Linked DNA regions of Homo sapiens. The protein of the gene in region 2 interacts with the protein of the main gene of each other region in a biochemical or structural test. Each region holds a gene or a part of one and is shown on either strand. Other genes may lie near its edges. The genes, in order: HAND1 and HEYL.

Region 1 (11,124 bases), on a different chromosome or scaffold from region 2:
TGTTTCCCTTGGAACTAAACAGGAAGTGCAGCGACAAAAAGAAAAATAAAATAAAACCACCACGATTCGAAGAACAAAGGGCAGCCTTTCATCTTCCTGCGTCTGGTTCTCTTTCTCAGGCAGAAAAGAATTGATTCCTTATTGCATTTTAATTAGAGAAGACGGCGTCGGGGCGGATCATATGGAGGGACAAGAGAGAAAGAGCCAGATAGGGAAATGGAGATAGGGCTGAGGTTCTAAATTCGCTCCAAAAGGGTGGAAGAGTGCGTCTTTGAGCCCTTGGGTTCGACAGTCCCTCCTTCTTGCATGTTGCCGCCAAGGGCCGCCCTCGGTTGGGCTGGGGGTGGATATATATATATTTCTCTTTCTCTTAATGTATTAAAAAAAATCAAAGGACATTGCACGTGCGATCCAAGTGTGTGGTTGCAGCCGACGACCTGCCGGCGCTCAGCAGAAGCTCCGCGGGATGCGTAGCACCAGTCGCCGGAGCCCAGAGCCTGGCGTTCGCCGCTGCCTTCCTCTCCTCCCGGGGCTTCAGGAGTGGCTGGCCTGGCCAGGTCCTCGGCGCGGGCCTCGGCTCACTGGTTTAACTCCAGCGCCCAGACTTGCTGCGGCCAGCCGGTGCGTCCTTTAATCCTCTTCTCGACTGGGCCCAGGGCAGGAGGAAAACCTTCGTGCTGCTGCTGCCAAAGGACACACAGAAGAAAAGAGGCGGGAGAGACAGGTTTTAATTTTTCTGCTCCGATCGCCCGGCATGGGGTAAGATGAGGAGGAGGGGAAGGTGTCGGGAGCAGTAACTGGGAGTCTTTAAATAAGTGACGGATTTCTGTTTGCGAAATAGGCAAACAGGCTCGTAAATTTGCCTTTATGCGCGGAGTTCCTGGGACCCGGGATGGGCTGGGCAGCTTCGGGAGGTTTGGTAAGGAAAATGTTCTGCGTCTGGTGAAACTGACGCGCGTTGATTTGGCTTTAGGACACCTAAGGGAGATCCCAGGATATTGGAAGGGAGGGGTGGAAATCCACGGTTCTCCCGCTCTCGCTGCACCCCACACACTTCCGCCAGCCTCCCAACCTGGTTTAAACATCAGGGCTTGGATGCAGGCTTGGGGCCCCCTAAGCCGGAGCTGGGAGCCTCAGATACGGAGGTAAAAGAGCGGGGAGTCGAGCTGGCCTAGCGTCCTCCTTCCCGCTCTTTCAGCAGGAACCAAGCGGTGCTACTTGAAGGAGGCGGCGACGCGTGGGGGCCGGGATCCGCCCAATAACAACTTCTTTCGAGGCGCCGCACCTCGAAAGAAGCCGGCCTGCACCATCCCCAGTCCGGGGCAGCCGTTTAGAGACTCGATGCCTATTTATCTTTCCCTCGTCCCTGGATGAGCTTTCGTCAGTTTACCACAGGCCCCCGCAGGTTGGATAAACCAGGTGGGGCGCTTCAGCTGGCTCCACTCCGCTACGGCCTTAAGCCCCCCAACCTAGAGAAACTGATTGGCCAGCCTGAAAACCCAGCGCTCAGAAGCCCCCAGCCCCGGACAGCCAGACCGAGTGCCAGGAAGTGTCACCCTAACCGGAGAGGATCAAGAAGGCCAAGACGAGACTGCGCTCTCCAAAGCTAAAAGAAGTGGCTCTTATTTACATGCAAAGCCACTGAAGTCGTCCTCAGAACCAGTCCATGGGGAGAACCAGAACTGGCCCTGGACTGAGTAGAAGACCCGATCTGTTTTACCTCACCTCCACCCTGGACTCCTCAGATAGGTGCTTTTCCTGCCCCGACCCACTCTGGGCCCTCAGTTTCCCTATTTATACAATGATGGAAGTAGACTAGCCGGTCCAGCAAAGGCCCTTTGAAAACAGGAACCGAGCCCGGGCACATAAATTCAAACTCAAAGTAAAGAACTTTAACACATATTCTTAACCTGGCTTCCAGGAGAGCCCAGGAATGAATCAGGACTTCTCCAAATTGGAAGCAAAACCTGTGGTGTGTGCATTTTTGGAGGGTCCGAGGCTCCAAACAGATTATTCACTCAGTATTACAAACACTCTCCCGTATTACAAATGAATTCTATGACGAATCTGCCTCCCTCCATGCACAGGATCGCACGCTGTGACCAACCATCTCAGAACTCTTCCCAACCTTTCCAAATCGGACACAGGACAACACAGCCTCCTTCGACTACCTGCATGGCCTGAGGCTGCTCACCGCTCCTGCACCCTTGGCTGGAGCATGCAAGCCCCAGGACTCACCAGCTCCCTTTTCCGCTTGCTCTCACGGCCGCCATCCGCCTTCTTGAGTTCAGCCTTGAAGGCCTCGGGATCGCCAGACTGTGCATCCTTGGCCAGCACGTCCATCAGGTAGGCGATGTAGCTGGTGGCTAGGCGCAGAGTCTTGATCTTGGAGAGCTTGGTGTCGGCCGGCACGTTGGGGATGCACTCGCGCAACTCCGCGAATGCGCTGTTAATGCTCTCAGTGCGTCTCCGCTCCTTCTTGGGTCCTGAGCCTTTCCGCCGGCCAAGACGGCCGCCAAGCGCCTCCAGCCGCCCGGGGCTCTGCCCAGGCCTGGCGTCAGGACCATAGGCGGTGGCGGCTGCAGCGGCCGCGGGCGGCGGCCCGCCCGCAGGGAAGTCCGGGGCAGCGTCAGCCGGGCTCAGCAGCCAGCTCTGGAAGTAGGGCCTTTCCTGATGACAGCGCGAGGCCGGACCGAAGAGGAAGGGTTCGTGGAGCATGGGGTGCGCAGGGTGCGGGTGGTGATGGTGGTGATGGTGTGCGTAGCTGCCCACGAGGTTCATGTTGGAGCGGCTACTGGCCTGCGCCGCCAGCCCTATTAACGCCGCTCCATGCGCCCCAGAGACTGCCGGGGGCCACCTGTGGGCTCTGGAGCCACTACTGGGCGCCGGCTTTGGGAGAGTCCGGGCAAGGCTGAAAATGAGACGCGCAGCCCACTGTCTTCTTACCGGTTTCTGCCGCGGGCGAGGTCGCCGAAGCCCAAAGACCTGTTTAACCCTTCTGCGGACTCCCCTGCGGATCTGGCTTATATAAGACCGCGGCTTTGATGTCAACCTCTCCCGGGAGCCAATGGCAGGGGGGCGGGGATAAGGAAAAGGGGGAGTGGCTATCCCAGGTTTTACGCTCAGCCCGCGCCACTCTAGTCCGCCAGCAGGGACTGGGAACCGGCCCCGCCTCTGCCCCTCCCACTCAGCTCCCTGCTCTGCGGGCTTAGGGGGGCGGGCTGCTGGGGGTGTTGAGGGGGCGGGCACGGGGACTACGTACTTGAGGCACAGGACGGCCAACGCCCTGGACTGTTGCTGCCACCCCCTCCCCACGGATCCAAGGAAAGGAATCCAGAATCACCAAGCGAAAAGAAGGCCTACACCTAGAGCCCGCCTTTTGATTTTACAGACAAGGAAACTGAGGCCCAGGGAAAGAAAGGTTCTTGTTTCTAGACTGTCTAGAAGTCTAAATAGGAATTCCAGCAGTTCCCAGTCCCGAGCTCCAACTGCTCTGCTCGGCGTCAGAGCTAGAAGATGAGAGGGCGCTGCTGAAGACAGGATAGGCCGCTAACGTTCTTCCCTAACACCTTCCAGCCCTCCGCCCCCACCCCCACCCCTTAGTCATCGGCCCTTTCTGGAGAGACTGGGAGCCGCTTGTGCACGGGGTCGTTACCAGCCCGCCAATTCTGACCCAGCCTCAGGCAGACGGGCACGCAGCTACTGACCAGCGAAGAAGCCTTTCGGAGGCAGGGGTAGGGGTGGGGCGGGAAGGAGGAGGCGGACTCCAGGCCCACGGGCATCGACGGGTTTGTTCCCGGCTTGAGGGTCTGAGATCCACTCCGGCCTCCCGGGTGCCTGATCCATTCCGAAGGCCAGCCCGGCTGGCGCAGAGACAGTCTGGCGTCCGCCTTGGGCCCGGGGCATCTGGCCAGCAGGTCTCCTCTGGTCTGTCCGCAGGACTCGCACCGAGACCTGGGAGCGCGGCTACGTCGGGCCGCTCTACCCAGATCATCACTCCTTAAGAATCTTTGGTTCTTTAAAGACACCGGCCCCGAAGCTCACACCTCGAGACACCAGCATTCGGCGTTAGACACACGCAGAGGGGACCAAGACTGCACAGCATCCGCGAGGCTCGCACAGGCAAACGCGACGTCCGGCATCTCTCACGCATCAGCGCAGAGGCGCGACTCGGCTGCACGACCCTCCGAGATTTCACCCCGGGGGTAGGGCCATTCCCTGCCAGCCGGACTCTCTCCACTGTGGGCTTTCCCCAGGCTCGCGTTGGAATCTGGGAATCCCGGAGTGGTGACGCTTCAAGCTGGGGACTCTCGGTCTTACCTCCCGCTGTGGTTCCTTTCTTGGCCGATGTCCACCTACCTGGGTCCCTCATTCTCTCAACCTTTCTCAGCTCAACGCCCCCTCCCTCGGTGTGGTAGAGGGAGTGTGCCTCTCTTCAAAGCAAAGTCGAGGGGAGGGGGAAAGGAGAAGTTAATGTGAGTGCTCTTTTTAGAAGGCAAATCATTCACCCATTCATTCAACAATTATTTATTGATGCCTACTATGTGCCTATCATAGTTACTAGTCCAAAGACAGAGGGAGAAAGGCCCATTCTCTCCTTGAACAGATATGGAACGTGAAGCCCAGAGAAGAAGAGCGATTTTCTCGAGGTCCGGTAGGGAGTGGATGAGTGGAATTCCACTCCTGGACAAGAGAGTGAATGAAGGGTGGGGGGTTACATACAGGAGTGACGGAGACAAAAGCCTGGGCCTGCTGGTTCCACCTGTGGGAGCTCAGCAGGGCTGTGGGCCCTGGAGGTGCATGGGGGGGTGGTGCAGGGAGGTCCTGGTTTCCTGCCCGAGGCGGGCTGGAAACCCCCCGCTCTCCCCGGCGCCTGGCGCCAGCAGCGCTGGGGTAGGGCAGAGCGCGGAGCCGGAGGCACGCGGGGAGGGAGCGCTGGGGGCCCGCTGCTGCGGCGGCTCTGCGGGGTCCCAAGCCTCCCTGGCCTGGAGGCATTCTAGAAAGAGCGCAGGTAGAGAGTAATTACGCTGTGGAGAGAAGGACCTCAACACACAATCCTCAACACACGCCCAGTCTTTGTCCTAATCCAAGTACAATCTGCAACAGTGCCTCTCAGAGCGGCACACTAGGCCCTCAGATTATACATTCACAGGTACATGCACAAGGGCTCACAAAACCTTGCCGCCGTACACAAAAGCCCGTATCTTCATAAGACGCCCAAAAGTATGTGTATTCTCACAGTAATACGCACAGCCACGGTACACACAGCATTCATGCATTCCTAGGATTTTACACATTGTCTCTCTGTCACCCACAGGGTACATACTCATCACGCTTCAGATGTGTTACACCTGGGAGCCGCTCCCAATCCTCCATTCAGGCATGCACAGAGACCAAAGTCATATGGTAGAAACACATAAATTCTGAATACTACACAAATGCAGGGTTTCACACATAATCTCATTGCCACAATTTAAACCAGCTTGTATCTTCCTAAGATTCTCCACAATTGTATTCGCAACACAAACTTCCAAAATCCCATCATACATTTTGTATATTCTCAGTGTCACCGCTAAGCCTTCAGTGCACAAGTACACAGTCACAATATCTACTACATATGCACAGGTGCTCACAAATAGAGGTTCTCACATGCTCACACATAACACACATACAAATGTGTGGCCCACGCGCCTGCCCATATGAGTCCTAGTTGCTTTTATGATGTTACACAGATCACTCAAGGTTGTATACATCCCCCATATATCTGGCCTGGTTAGTGTGGTGGGGAATGCATTATCAGTACTGGGTGAGGAGTCCCAGTCCTATGACACCCCTTGAGGGCCCCTGAGACTACCTGGCAGCCCCCCATGGGTCTTAAAGAGCAGGGTGTCTCCAGCTGCCAGTGATGTGGAAAGCACTGTTCCCCAACCTAGAGAAGGTATTCAGTGTCATTTTTCAAGCGGTGCCCCCACCAGAAACTCAGCCCTAAGGGATCTCCTGAGGCTTGGGGCTGGGGCAACCCCCAGCAGGATGACGTCGGGGGAGACTGCAGTACAACTAGGCTCTAGACTGCCTTCTCAGAGACCCCAAAATGCTTTACTGTAGTCCGTGGAGAGCAGCAGAACTCCCGGGATGGTGGGGACCTTGTAAGGTTGTTCTCTATCTCTGCCCAAGCTATATTGTAGGAGGAGGTCTGAGACCTAGGATTTTGGCTAAAATTGCTTTAGGCTGGCAGGCAAGAGATGTGACAGGCAAGAGTCCTGGCTTTCCCTATCTAGCACCTCTTTGTTCCTTTCCAGTCCGAGCCTCAGTTTCCCCAGTTGCAGAAGAAGGGAATAGGATTGATAGTCTGGAATTCTGGAATTCCCAGCTCCTCACTATTGCAGGGACCCTGCCCTGGTTCCTCCTGGGACTTAGTGCTCAGCTCAGGGATCCCTACAGAAGGACTCCGCTTTCCTCTTGCCTACCTCAACAGACCAAGGACTAGAACTCCCAGGGTCCTAGCCCACACTGCCCCTGCAGCCTCCTCTTAACGAACCTTGCTCACCTAAAGAGTGCCTTCAGGGGGGTTGGCCTTCTTAGTATTTTCAAATGCAGGCTTCTCGTTTCTTCCCCCAGTTGTAGTGGTGAGACCCGGCAGGAACTCTTCTTTACCCTGTTTTACAAAGTAGAGGGCTTATGCACATAAAACACATTCCACCTTGCTATGGAATCGGGCCCATCTGAGTTAAAACTGTGCACATCATTCCTCCCTGTGTGAAGCTTCTACACCTCAGTTTTCTCTTCTGTAAATTGGAGGACAATAATAACCTCTGTGGAGGGCTGGCGTAAGAGTAAGCACAAGGCGAGGCTCTTAGCACAGTGACAGTAAACCTGGATAAATGGTGGCTCTGTTTTTAGGAATATTAATTTCATAGGGGCGGAAATGGAATTACATGCCGCCACATGACTACAAAGCTCTGGATGGGGAGAAGGACCAGGACACTGAATCCTCCTTGCAGGGCTCTGTTCTGACCTGACCTAGCTGCTTCTGACTGCCTTAGGTTCCTTCCCATTCCCTACTGACCCTACACAACCCAGCCATCATAAGACTGGAGATACAGAGACATCGCCAGGTGTAGGAATTATGTTGCCAGAGACCCGAATTCCAGTTCCAGATTCCACCCTCCACCCCCATGTCCCTCCCTAAATGACTTGGTGGGGGGTGCAGTCTTGTCACCTACGGGACTCAGTTCCCCCAACCATAACAGTAGGACAGCTGTACCCGGGCAATGCGAAGGTCCCTCAAGCCTGGACGTTCTGCAGTGGTGGGGTCTCGCTCTTGCCCTAGCCCCTCTCCTACCCTCACCCCTATCCGCGCCCCCCGGACTGGCAGGCCTCTGGAAGCCCAGGCCGCGGCGCCTACCGCAAAACCTTCTCCCGCCGCAGTCCCGTGACCTTGACGCCACGGGCAATCCCCGCACCGGACCCCTTATCTAAATAGGGCAGTAAATCAAGGACCTGTCAGGGCCCGGGTAATTACAGGAACTCCATAAAAAGGACCCGGCCGGCCGCCTGTTTATATTAGCGCGGTGTAAAATATTCTCGCTGTCTTGGGGAATCGCGTCGCGCAGTAACGCGCCATAAATCAGCCCGCGGACCATTTACCCCGCAGCTTGAGCGCGCAAATCCCTTAAACATTTCTCTGCCATGTCTGAAGAGGACCTAGGACTTTCCAATCTGGCCCAGCCTGCTCCCAGGGATGGGGGACAGTCGGGGCAGGGAAGAGATAGGCACGGAGTAGATTGCTCCTGGGAGCTCCAAGGTTCTGTTTGCAGACGGGAAACTAGCCCAGAGAGGGGAAGGAACTTTCCTAAGGGCACACGGCCGATGAGTGGCAGACGCGCGGCTAAAGCCCAGATCTCCAGAGGGGACCTGGGGTGAACAGCAGCCTCTGTCTCCCCTTATTACCTTCTTTCCTGAGACGAGGGTGGTCAGGCCAGAAAGGGTCCAAGCAGGAAGTGACGTTCTTTACATTTTGGCCAGGAGGTTCTTGCCATTGTGCACAGAATTATGTGTCAATGCTTTTCTGCGCAACGGTAGCCCCTGATTACGGGCAAAACACAGGCCCAGAGGATGGGGAGAGACTTGCCCAAGGGCACACAGATAGAAATCGACGACCCTCCCCTGCTAAAATAATTCATTTTGGTTTATCTCCTCCACGCTCTTTCTTAAAGAAAAACTAGGAGAGAGTGCCTATGCATATATGTGTGTGGCTGTGTGTGTGTACGAGGGGGGGGGGTCATTTGTGCTCATTCTCAGGCCTGTAACAGGCCTCAAAAATACAAAATCTATTTAAGGTAAACCTGCTGCTGCCTATTGTCCAATGAGTAACATAAATCAAGCTTATGGAAAAAGAATATTACATTTTCTAACCTCCCTCTGGGCTAGGACCTGAGGATTCGAGGGAGAATTAAACATGTATGTGTTTCCCCCAACTTTTTCTGTCTTCCTCCCCTCATTCTCTTTCTCTTCCGAAGCCCGTAAATGACAATGTGTTTACATAAGTTTTTATGTCGTCTGAGCTTCGTCCCGGCTCCGTTTCCTCCTCTGTGTATTTTCCGCACAGAGAGATGTCTGCTTCGGGACGCGTTCAACCTAAACAGAACCCGGTCTGATTGGAAAATGTATTTATTTGAAAAATCGTAACTCACGGTTTTGGTGAAAACGGCCCCCAAATTTATGGGATCGCTTGGGGCGCAGCGATTGTAAATCAAAAGGCACTGGACACCTCCCTCCCCCATCCCCGAAGCAGCTCGGTCAGGTTCTCCAGAACACCAGGAGTCCTGTCTCCTCCCGGTCCACCCTGCGGCCCTCCGAGACCCTCCCTTCTCCCATCCCTCGCAGTGGTTAGTTGCACACTAGCAGGCAGGTGGATTTTACTCCGGTTTCTTTTACCCAGTCCCGTTGCTTTCAGGGCAATTTCATTCTGGTCAGCTTCACAGCACTCAGCTCCAGGCCGCCTGTTAACGAAGTTTTGCTGTGCACCAGGCTGTTTTCGGCATATTGGGAGATTTTTTTTGTTCCTCACATGCTGGTTAGTTTCCTGGTGCTCGGTTGCTCCCCGGGTCGGGTCGGGCCACTTGTAGCCAATCCCTAGACCACTGATCATTGCCTGCCGAGCTGTTTCATGCCAAGAGGCTTATCTCGGCTCATTGTCACGAAGGTCATTCTCACTGCCTGACTGTTGCATCCCTGGTCAGGAGAATTTTTTCCTTTCCCAGTCTAATCTGAATTCCACAGCAAGGACTGAATCAACCCACTTTACCTATCTCCTGGGTCCTCCTGCCAGCGAAAGCCAGCTGATTACTGGGGAAAAGCTAGAGCCGGGATGGTGTATCCAAGGACAGATGCTGCTGGCTACATAGGTGGGGAGTCTTCGCCAGGGACACGACCAGCAGAGCTGGACGCAGGGACATTTCATGAGCAAACATTGAGTCTACTTTCTCCTGGAATACAGGACTGAGCCATATCTCTGTCTTAAGGATCATGCGCTTCTCTGGCAGAGTCCCCATGGGGCACAATGCAAGCTGTCCACTCCAGGCTTGTCCATCTAAGCCTTGCTATCTCAGGGACAGGGTCTGGAGATTCATTCAAAACTTCTGTGCTCTTTTCTCCAAAAGAGCATGCAGGAGCCAAGAGGTTCCGAAGTCTGCCGGAGCATAAGTGTTATAGCTAGCAATGGGTCGTGGGGATGATCGGCAGCTGGCTACACTTAAGTTGAAAACACTGGGCTCCTCAACCCTTTCCTTCTGCTCACAGGCTTTCAGAAAGAGTCCGTATGCACGAAACAACTGTATCATTATTAGCCTTATTATTTTAAACGGGGCCAGGCCACATCCATCATCTTTCCCATAATGGTCAATTGTAAACACACTTTAAAAGAGAAAAACAAAAAAGGGATTTAATGTTGACACTGGGAAAATGCTTAGCTCTGGCATTGCTGGGGAATTGGCAGGCTCTCTGGTCCTTTGGGAGAGAAGTTAAGTGCTCTGAGAGTTTTTTTGTTTTGTTTTTTTTGCTTTTTCCATTGAATTTCTAAATCCCTCAGGAGTCTCCTTTGTCTCTTCAGTTTAATGAGGGAAGTCCTTTGTTAAAAAGTCAAGGATGGATAGAAGAGCCTTGGCATCAGAAAGGAGACGGGAGTGGAGTAAGAACACTGCAAACACGGTAAACTGTGCTGATCCTCTTCATTACCATGGTCAATCTTACCAGCACCCTTCTGGATTTCAGCCTCTTTCTGCCTTACTATTTCCACGCTGCAGCTGAGTTTTGCCCTGGAAGGGAGAGGTGTAAAGAGAAGTGAACGACAGAAAAAACAGAAATTAGGGAAAAAAAAAAAGTGGCGATTCATGAATGGTGACTGAAGAAACGGGAGCACACTTTGGTTTTCACTTCATTATCAACTATTAGAGCAAGTTCCCTTCCAGAAAGCCTGGGTTTGAGCACCTCTTCCCAGTGTGAACATTGCTCCCTAGCCACATGGACACCCCCAACATCTCACCCACACACACCAGAGGATACAAGATTGTCCACATTAGCTTCCTAAAACTCACCCAGAGCACGGCTCAAAGAACAAGAAGTCACAGTGGAACCCAGCCTCAAACTCAAACCAACTGTTGGCAGTTATTAAATTCATTTTCATCCATACAAGCAAGGTCCCAAAAAAGTCTACTTAAAAAAAAAAAGTGGCAGGAGAAGAGAGAACAGAAGGGAAAGCCCCAGAAACCAGACCAGAAATTAATGTAATTACCTCTTCTCCCCTGCCATAAATTCCGCAGAGGAAATCAAATCTTTCTGTGCATGTGTATAAAAACCTATCAGTCTATGGAGCTCGCCAAAACCCATTATGTCTCAAACTGGGTGTTCTAATTGAGTGAATCTGAATGTACCAGTCGACCAAGCATCAATGGATCCAGGTTTTTCCAAGGGCGTTTGCCACAGAGCCAGAGAGGATAAACATTGGTTGGAACCACACACTAATCAGCTTGCTTGCCGAAGAGACCCTCTCTGAGCCTGGAGGAGATCTATGGAGCCTGGGTGCTGGCAGATGCATCCTAACATTTTGCGTCAGATTGTAATGGA
Region 2 (10,796 bases):
AATTAGGGATAGAGTGGATGGAGACAGAGGCCAAACCCAAATGTAGCATTAGAGCACCCACTCTCAACACCAGGCATCACTCTCTGCATCTTACCTCATTTAACCCTCACAACAACCCTGTGGAGTGAGTGGCTTTGGTATCATCCCATTTTACAGATGAGAAAACCAAGGCACGGAAAGGCTACTCTTGTCCTGGCTCACTTTCTGTCTCACTGTGTGGCCCTGGGGATGCTTCTGTCCCTCTCTGGGTCTCAGTGTCCTTAGGCTCAAAGGCAGGACAAAGTCCTGCAGAGGGAAGACTGAGTGGCACCTGGGTGCTCCAGGTCCCTTCTTCCCCCTACTTCATCCTGGGCCATGGGCCAGGAAAGTCCTTGTATGTCTCTGCTGTTTTTCCAGGAACAAGGAAGCACCTCCTTCCCAGACAAGGTGGAGGCCTTCAGGAGCCCCTCAGTTCCCCTCCCCATCACTGGACACTCAGCCAATGTTTACCAAACACCTACCTGTGCCAGACGCCGGTAGGCATCAGGGAGATCACAGTGAACAACCCAACATGGTTCCTGCTTTTACAGGGATAACAGCCCAGGCCTCAGACAGACATAAACTATTCCACAATTAATAACCACCAACCACCACCCTGGGCATCTCTGTGCCAATCATCCTCTCCTCTGAGACCCCCCAGATACCTCCACCATGCAGCAGTTAGAGGCTCAGTGTCTGCCACAGTGGTCTCTGGAATCCTGTTCCAGTGTATAGTCTATGTGCAAGCCAACCGTTCAGAGCCCAGGCCATATCAGTTTAGTGATCTGAATACCAGCCCCAAGAGCAGACGGGATTGACCTAGTGTGGGCTCAGTGATAGAGAAAGTATTGCTGCAACTGAAACCTGTCGCTGAAAATCTCCAGCTCGCTCAGCTCTGGGACAGACAGAAAGGAGCGGAAGGTAGAATAGAGGGCCCGTCTCGTCCTCCCTCCCTTTGGATTGAGGCTGCCTGCTACTCCTGGGCCTCTCACCCTTCTCCTTACTTCTGACTCCTTCTCCATCAGTGAGCAAATTCTTCCTGAGGCTCTGCTGGTCCCTGGAGTTGCATGGCGTGCCCTCTCTCATTGACCTGCCCCTCTTTTTTGTTTTTTTTTTTCTAGAGATGGGGTCTCACTCTGTTGCCCAGGTTGGAGTGCATTGGTGCAATCAAGGCTCACTGTAGCCATGACCTCCTGGGCTCAGGTGATCCTCCCACCTCAACCTCCTGAGTAGCTGCTATTACAGGCATGAGCCACTGTGCCTGGCTGACGTGCCCCCTTTTTAAACCTGCTTCCGCAACCCTCTACCCCAGACACTTCCCAGTCCATGACATCCTGCCCTTGTCTCTGCCTCCCTTGCCTCTGTTCATTCATCCCAAGGCATCTGTGACCTCCTGATCACACTTCTTTCCTCTTAGAGCCCCTGGACTGGTGACCAAGCCCCTTTTCTCGGCTCCTGGTTGCCTTGGTCCCTGGTGCTCCATTCTCGCAGGATTCTCCTCCTTCTTCCCAGAGAATCTTTGGCTATTGTTTCCCAGGGTCCTAGCCTAGGTTCTCCTCCCTTCTGGATCTGCACTAGCTCCTTGGGACAGATATGTCATGTATCCCATGTCTTCAGCCACCAAATCTCTCCTCCAGCCCAGACCTCTCCCTGGGTTCTCCTCCTGGGTGTGCGCTAGGTCTCACAAACAGCATGGCCATAGTGAGCTCCTTCCCTTCTCCAGTGTTTCCCCTTGGTGCTTGTCACCTTCATCCATTCAGTCACCCAGACAGGAACCCAGTATCACTCGAATCCAGTCCTTATTGCCTGGCCTATTTTAAGAGTCTCCTGATTGGTCCACCCAGCTCTAATGCAGGTTGCAGTGGTTACCAGCATGAATTCTGGCGCCAGACTGCTTGGTTAAAATCCTATTTCTACCACTTAGTAGCTGTGTGATCTTGGGTAAGTTATTTAACCTCCCTGTATTTCAGGGTAACTTATGAAGAAAAGAGGTTTAATTGGCTCACGGTTCTGCAGGCTGTACAGGAAGCACAGTAGCATCTGCTTCTGGGGAGGCCTCAGGGAGCTTCCAGTCATGGTGGAAGGCAAAAGGGGAACAGGCACGTCACATGGCAAAAACAGGAACAAGAGAGGAAGCAGGGGAGGTGCCACACACCTTTAAACCACCAGATCCATGAAAACTCACTATCATGAGAACAGTACCAAGGGGATGGGACTAAACCATTCATGAAAAATCCACCTCCCTCACCTCCCACCAGGCTCCACCACCAACATTGGGGATTACAATTCAACATGAGATTTGGATGGGGACACAGATCCAAACCATATCACCATTCTATTGATATTCCATGCTTGTTCCTACCTCAGGGCTTTCCACTTGCTGTTCCTTCTGCCTGGAATCCTCTTCCCCAGATCTTCTTAGATTCCCTCTCTCCATTCGGGTCTCTGCATAAGTGATTCATCCTCAGAGACGATCTCCTGACCCCTAAGTAAAATAGCCACCAATCCCCCAGTCACCCTATGTCTCCACCTCACTTTATCTTATTTCACAGCATCTATTAATATCACTGACATTACATTATATGTGTTGCTATATGTTTGTCATCCTAAGCTCTGGCCCCTGCAATGTGAGAATGGCCCAATACAAATGGCAAGAAGGCTGTCGTGGGTGAGTGGACAAGGCAGAAAGTGGTTGGGGATGAAGCTGGAGAGATGGGCAGGGGCCTGAGCTTAGGAGATGGTACCTCCAGTGTGCCCTGAACTGCCCTGGCATGATTATTAGTATTGCCTCCTTTCACTCTCAAAGGTGCCCAGGTTATTACAGTTGTTCTGTGTATAGGGCATGGTAAGCAGTTGGCATTTTATTTCAAATGGGATGTGAAGCGTGTGGATGGTTTTGAGCAGGAAGTGACATGATCTGACTGGCATTTTAAAAGGATCATGACCAAGTCCTTGAAACACTCTTTTGGCTCCTGCCCACACCCCCCCACACACACCCCACTCTCCTCCACTGCCCTTTCAGTCTTCTCTGGCAGCTCTTTCTCTTCTACAACCTTTAAATCTTGGAGTTTCTCCAGACTAGCGGTTCCCAACTGGGGGCGATTTCTCCCCCAAGGGACATTTGGTATTTTATCTGGAGATATTTCTGATGGTCACAACTGGAGCGGGTATAACTGGCATCCAGTGGATAGAGGCCAGGGAGGCTGCTTACCATTCTACAATCCACAGAACAGCCCTACACAATAAAGAATGACCTGACCCAAAATGCCAGTAGTCCTGAGGTTAAGAAACCCTGCACCAGATTAGCACCATCCAATAGGAATATCATGGGAGCCAAATATGCAGTTTAACATTTTCTAGTAGTCACATTTTTAAAAACCTAAAAATAAAACAAGGGAAGTTAACTTTACTAATGTATTTTATTTCATCCAATATTTATACAATATTATCATTGCAACATGTAATCATAACAAAAAATATCAATGAGATAGTTCACACTTAAAAAAATTCTGGTGTGTATTTCATACTCACTGCACATACAGCAATTCAGACCAGCCACATTTCAAGTACTTAATAGCCATAGGGGGTTCGTGGCTATTATATTGATGGCATAGCTCTAGGCTCAGTACTGGATAATATATCACAATGTTTAAGAGCTGTATAATTGACGGGGTGTAGTGGCTTACTCCTGTAATCTTAACACTTTGGGAGGCCAAGGTGGGAAGATTGCTTGGCCCCAGGAGTTGAAGACCAGCCCGGGCAACATAGTGAGATCTCATCTCTACCAAAAAAAATTTTTTTTTTTTTTTTTTTTTTTTTGAGACGGAGTCTTACTCTGTCGCCCAGGCTGGAGTGCAGTGGCGCCATCTTGGCTCACTGCAAGCTCCGCCTCCCGGGTTCACGCCATTCTCCTGACTCAGCCTCCCGAGTAGGTGGGACTACAGGTGCCTGCCACCACGCCTGGCTAATTTTTTGTATTTTTTAGTAGAGATGGGGTTTCACCGTGTTAGGCAGGATGGTCTCGATCTCCTGACCTTGTGATCCGCCTGCCTCAGCCTCCCAAAGTGCTGAGATTACAGGCGTGAGCCACCACACCTGGCAAAATGTTGTTTTTTTAATTAGCTGAGCATGGTGGTATGCCCCTGTAGTCTGAGCTATTCAGGAGGCTGAGGTGGGAGGATCACTTGAGCCAAGGAGTTCAAGGTTTCAGTGAGCTACGATGGCACCACTACACTCTAGCCTGGTGACAGAGTGAATCCTTGTCTTTATTTTTAAAAGAAGGGGGAGTACTGTATAAAGTAATAAAGCCTAATGTTTTGGCTCTGGAACTGAACTGCCTTGTTGAATTCCAGCCCTTCCATTTATTGCCTGTTGGCCTTAGGTGGAGTTAGTCTACCTCTCAGCCTTTGTTTCTCACTTGTAAAGTGGGGATTATAATATTACTACTTTATAGGGTTGTCAAGGATTAAATGAGTTAATATTTACAAAAGACTTAGAATAGTTTCAGGTTTTATAATAAGGGCTCACCAAATGTTAAGTATTTAGCTAGGCCCCTGCTCTGTCTCCATCCACGTTTTCTGAATGATCCCATCTGCTCCCATAGCTTTAAATGCCATCAATTACCTAATGACGTCCAAATTTAATATCCAGCTGAGACCTCTGTTCTGAACTCCATACCCTCTATTTAACTGTGCACTGTATTTTGATGATCCAAGACATCTCACATGAAACGTCCATCACGGGGCCCTTGACCTTCCCCTGCAAATCTGCTCCTCTTCCAATCTTTGCTATCTCAGCCAATTACACAGGGCAGCTATCTGGGAGGCTTCCTTGACTTCCGCCTTTCCAGGGAATGCATAACACATTGTGCAACTTCTCTGTTAGTTGAGGTTTCCACTGACTGGCATGTGCCCACAGAAGTGATGTGAGTGCTGAGGGCATTTGGAATGAGAGTCCATAGTTGTGGCTGGGGCGACCACCAGGGCTTCCTGGTACTGATTGCTCACGACAGTTGCGCCTACCAGTATATATTTGTAAGTCTGTCCGTGTGTATGTGTTTGCATACCTGGCCAAATGGTTGTGTCTGTGGATGTGTGTGGACGGGGGCACAGGAACATTCTTTCCCATCAAGTAATCAAGTGTCCCCCAGCAAGCAGGCCTTGCTGTGGGGATGGAAGCACAGTTATTCTCAGATGACCAACCCGATTCTCCCACTTGAAGGGGTGGCTTCCCTCAGGTCCTGACCTGGTGGCGGGTAAAAAGGAAAAGACCTCTCATATCTAACCCAGCACACCAAGACCTCCTCTATCTCCTCTTCCCTGCCCAAGAAGTCCAGCTCCAGGATGCTCTCATGCAGCTTCCTTTGGAGCCTTAGGAGCTTCTCTGAGGTACTGGGCGCCTGAGGATGACCGGTGAATCTGAGAACTTCCCACAAGTCCCCCTAAGGACAGGGCAGCTAGAGCCCTCCCTGAGTGAACAGTTTGATGGGTTGCCAGAAGCAGAGGCCCCAGGAAGAGAGGCTGGAAGGTATCTTCCCTTTTCCTCTCCTTCTCCCACTTTGAGGCCCTGCCATAGCGTCTAGAAGGAGCCCTTTCCTGGCCTCCTGGCCGCCCAGGACAACTCGACCTCTGGTGAACTGGGAACTGATTCCCAGGGACAACCCACCACTGCCACCACGCCAGGCCTTTAGGGACCTCGGCCAGAGCCCAGCTTTCTCAGATGCGGTGGCCACAACTTCAGCCGTCCCTTTTGGGGGTGACTGCCACCTCTCAGAAGTGTAAGTGTCTTCCCCTTGCCCCCACCACACTATTCCACTTGCTTTGGGCCCCTATGGAGTTGCTGCTGGGGAATTCTTGCTGAGGATCAGGCCACAACCACCACGACTAACTTCGACAAACTTGATGTGTCTGCTGCCTCCAGAACACCAGGAGGCAGGAGCGCGCAGGGTTGACCCTTGCGGAATCCCGGGCATCGAAGCGGCGCCTCTACAGGCCAGCAGCGCCCAGGCGACCCAGGGACAGACGGGGACTCCTGGCTTCCCCGCGGGGCCTCCCAGGGCACCTGCCCAAGGCCACCCAGCGCGCGGCAGCCGAGACAGCGGAGCAGAGCCGGACCTCCCAGCCGTCGATGAAGGCGGCGACCGCCTAGGGCCTTCCCACGGCTCGGCGGCGCGTCACCGCGGGGGCGAGGGGGCGCCTGGGCGCCCGGAGCTGCGGCGCAGGAAAGGGCCCTGGGAAAGGGCGGTGGCGGCGCCCCCGAGGCGGGGCCGGGGCGGGGCCGGGGCGGGGCCTGACTTCCCGACTGGGAGCCTTAGCCGCGGGGCTGAGACCAGGCAGCCTGCGTTCGCCATGAAGCGACCCAAGGAGCCGAGCGGCTCCGACGGGGAGTCCGACGGACCCATCGACGTGGGCCAAGAGGGCCAGCTGAGGTAAGGGCCGGGATGCGGGGACCGAGCAGGCGGAGGGCGAGCGGGGTGGGGGTCGGCCCGACGGGCTCGCCGAGCAGGCGGGCCAGCCCTCCAGCACCGCCTGGGCAGAGGCAGGTGAGCGCGGGGGCCACAGGTGTCGGCGTAGGGGGCGTGTGCGGGCCGTGCCGTTACACGCACGAGTGCCTGGATCCTGCGCGCTCTCGGTCGTGCAGGGCTGGGGATGCTGGCAGGGAGGGAGAGTTCAGCTCGGGGGATCAGGTGGCTAGTGGGTTATCATCTATCTGTTGAAGTGGCCTAGGGGAGGCCATTGGCAGGTTTTCCCTGGAGATCTTAGAAAACTCTCATAGACTGATGGTACTCTGGCCCCTGTCTGGAATCTGCTGACGATGCAGAGTAACCCCATCCTTTCCCAATTTTACCCTAGTTTGGATGCAGTTTTCATGTAGTCCACAAATTATTTCAGGAAGAAGAAAATTTGTCCTCCTTTGAGCAAATTGGAGTTTGGATTTAGGGACTTAGTATTGAAGAAAATAATAAGCGACTTGCAAGGGCCTAGACTCTAATTCCAATGTTCCTCCTATCGTGCCCCCATACTGCCAGTGTCTTTCAGCTCCTGGTAGATAGTCTGACCTGCTTCAAACCTGTCGAACAAACTGCGCTTGTATAGTTCTGCTACCTCGCAGTTCTGTAAACTGTCTAAGCTTCAGTTTCCTTATCTGTTAAATGAGCATGAATAATAGAACCAACTTCATGGAAATATTGGGAAAACCAAATGAGGCAAAGTATGTCAAGGGCTTAGCACAGCACATGCCTAGGTACACACCATGTGATTCCCAGCACCCTGAAAGAGCTGCAGGGCTGACTGGGAGTCTGCAGACCTGGGTCCCAGCCCCAAATCTGCCACCAACTCACTATGTGGTCTTGGGCCATTGGTTTCCCTGACAGAGTCTGTCATCAGTTTCCCCATCAGTAAAACAAAGACAGCAGTGGAAAAGAAAGGGATATACTTCATCTCTCTTGGCTCATCTAGACTTGACTCTCTAGAACAGAATTGGAGGGGAATTCAGTTAATTCTTTCTTTCTTTCTTTTTGACATGGTCTCACTCTGTTGCCCATGCTGGAGTGCAGTGGCATGATCATAGCTCATGGCAACCTTGATCTCCTGGGCTTAAGTGATCCTCCTGCCTTGGCCTCCCAAAGTGTTGGGATTACAGACATAAGCCAGTGAGCCAGGCCCAGTTAATTCTTAGGGATGTTTTTGAGGACATTTTGTAATTTTAGTGCTCTCCAGTTTTCTGAGATCCAAGGATCCTGCCTCAGTCTCAAATCCCAGGAAAATGCCATAATAGATATTCCTCTTGCAGCCTGTACATTTGTTTTTAGGGAGTATAACACAACTCGCTATGCAACGTATTAGCCTTTCTTAATTGTTTAGCAGAAACTGCTATTTAGAAAAGCAGTTATCTTAGCCTGTGCCTGTTAAGGGCCAGGAAAGGGCACAGCACCACGTGGTGGTGGTGGAGCGGGGTCTCAAATTCAATGGCATTGGGTCTTCATAGATCAGAGGCACAAAATTGATGCCAGAGAACTAGGTTGATCAGAGCTGGCTTCTGTCCTCCACAAGTTTGCAGCCCAGTCAGTGACCTGCCAGGTCATAAAAACACCATGGACAGGATGGAAAGGAGACAGACTGTGGGCTGTGAGGGCACTTAAGCAAAGAGAGGTCACTCTTAATCAAAGATGGCAAGGAGGGCTTCTTGAAGATAGTAGCATCTGGGCAACTGCTTACATGAGGCATAAAGGATCAGTGGGCAGTTTTTTCCTATACATACAGCATTTCCTATATATACAGAGCCCATTTTTAGACACTGTTCTTAGAGGAGCAGACCCCTCTGAGGAGAGAAAGCAGCTGGACATCTGGCAGAGGCTGACTTATAGATGCCCCTTTGTAGCACTCACCAAAGGGCCCTTCCCCCAGCAGACATCAATGCTTCAATTCAGGGAGCACTGAACGATGCCTGCTGTGGCCCAGACCCTGGGCTGGGCATAGGGGGCCCAGATGTATCCTGCTCAGCCTCTGCCCTCAGGGAACTCTCAGGGAAGAAGAGCTTCATGTACAAAGAAAGCAGATAAACACTGACAAAGGCCGCAGGACGGAGGCAGCCAGCCTCTCGGGGTCAGGGGCAGGGCGCAAAACCCCCACACTCAGAAACGTGAGAGTAAAGAGCAGGGTGTGTTCCACCATCACTGTGGCATCTGCCTGGTGGCAGTCCTGCCACATCTGTGAAACTCACCCACAGAGCTCTCATCTCAACCTGGCCCCATGACGCAGGATGAGTCCAAACTGAGAGTACAGCCTCTCCTCTCCCTCTGCAAACATCTAATGAGCACCTGCCACATGTCAGACACTGGATCAGGGTCCTGTTCCTGCACAATATAAGGTGGTGGTCTTGGAGTCAGATAGACCTGAGTTTGAATTTTACCACCATTAACTTTGGCCAGTGACTTTTACCCCTTTCTGAACCTCAGTTTTCTCGCGTTCAAAATGGGAATACATTAGCACTCCTGCCTCGCAGGATAAGGTTTGATGAAGTAACATACATAAAGTTACATAGCTCCCTGCTTTGGCACAAAGTAACTTCCAATAAACGTTGCTGTCAAAGCGGTCACCATTCAGTTGGGGGGCAACATATTTATGAGACAGCATGGTCTAATGAAAAGACCGGAAGTGTGAAGACTGGACTTACTGGAGTGATTCTTAACTCCAGTGTCTCTGTCACTCCACCTGTAAAATGATTATTTTTCCTAAATGTGAAATGGCCCAAAAAATACTTCACTTACAGTGCTATTGTGCAATAAATTAGACAAATGGATGTGGAAGTGCAGTATAGAACAAAAAGCACTGGCTCTGAGATCTACATGACGGGATGATGTATATATGGGGTGCACTGGCAAAAGCCCCAGATTAAAAGCCACTAGAGGCCGGGCACGGTGGCTCACGCCTGTAATCCCAGCACTTTGGGAGGCTGAGGTGGGTGGATCACGAGGTCAAGAGATCGAGACCATCCTGGCTAATATGGTGAAACCCCATCTCTACTAAAAATACAAAAAATTAGCTGGGCATGGTGACACGTGCCTGTAGTCCCAGTTACTTGGAAGGCTGAGACAGGAGAATCACTTGAACCTGGGAGGCGGAGGTTGCAGTGAGCTGAGATTGTGCCACTGCACTCCAGCCTGGGTGACAGAGTAAGACTCTGTCTCAAAAAAGAAAAGAAAAAAAAAAAAAAGCTACTAGAGTAGACCTGGCTGTAGTTCCGATTTTCCTCTAATTTGCTGTGTGGCCTGGGGAAGATCCCTTCCCCTCTGAGTTTCCTTATTTTACAAATGGACTCAGTTCTCTCTGAGATTCCTTCATTTGGGACATTGTGATTCTGCCTTTGGCTGACACAAAATGATTAGGGTCATCTGCAAGGGTTCCACGGGGGAGTTCCCAGGGGAAGTCAGCACTGAGGGTGGTCAGGACCACCTGGAAAGCTTCCCCCCATAAGAGACCGCCCCAGAATTCTGGCTAGGAGCCACTAGAGGCCTATGGAGCAGATCTTGATGGTCAACATATCTTCTCTGGGTCCATGAAAATCTGTGTCATTTTCAGATTCTCAGACAAGAGAATCCCACACCTCATCCCACTGTCAGGGCCAGATCGCGGGCTGGAAGGGAGCTCTGGCTGGGCTCTTGGGAACTTTAAAAATAAGGGGACCGGAGGGCTATTCAGACAGACAGGAAGTAGGAATTAGAAGGGAAAAAATGCTGAAGCGGAGCCAGAAGATGCGGATTCCCTGCTGGCTTTGCTCCTTAGCAGCTGGGTAGGCTGGGCAACCTGCTTTAGCTCCCTGAAGCTCAGCAACCTCATCTGTAATATGGGCTTTTGTAAGGCTCAAAGGAGGGAAAGACATATAATGTTGCCAAGAAAACTGTAATGTGAGGTTTGCCTCTGAGATATGGGAAGAGGAGAAGGGGGGAAATAATACGACAGGGACAAGCTGACCAGGAGATTGGAAAAAGGAATGGCAGCACTGCTTTGCCCTGAAATGGGTGCGTCAGCCTCCAACAGATGGTCCCAGCGGAGGGATCAGGCTGAGAGGCAGTGACGTGTGCAAGGCTAACCTAATACCCGGAAAGACGCTTTATCAAGCTGGGGGGAACAAAGGCCGTGTTTCTTAGTGTGTCTTGGCTCTTGGGGTTTGTCCCCAGTGAACCAGTGAGGCTTTGTAAACAAGCTGCCCCATAGATCTCAAGATCTGGCCTTACAAGCCCTGGACCTAGCTTGCTGGGTCCTCCCTCCCAGGAGCTA

The links.
Region 1: the proteins of HEYL (region 2) and HAND1 form a complex in vitro, tested with the Homo sapiens proteins (one study listed by BioGRID).

Annotation. Positions count from the first base shown.
Region 1 is NC_000005.10:154,475,228-154,486,351, forward strand, and holds the start of HAND1 (heart- and neural crest derivatives-expressed protein 1), read right to left. Parts: upstream 3,001-11,124; 5' UTR 2,782-3,000; coding exon 2,239-2,781; intron 684-2,238; coding exon 579-683; 3' UTR 1-578. UniProt on the Homo sapiens protein: Transcription factor that plays an essential role in both trophoblast giant cell differentiation and in cardiac morphogenesis. Binds the DNA sequence 5'-NRTCTG-3' (non-canonical E-box). Acts as a transcriptional repressor of SOX15.
Region 2 is NC_000001.11:39,635,195-39,645,990, reverse strand, and holds the start of HEYL (hairy/enhancer-of-split related with YRPW motif-like protein), read left to right. Parts: upstream 1-6,347; 5' UTR 6,348-6,365; coding exon 6,366-6,445; intron 6,446-10,796. UniProt on the Homo sapiens protein: Downstream effector of Notch signaling which may be required for cardiovascular development. Transcriptional repressor which binds preferentially to the canonical E box sequence 5'-CACGTG-3'.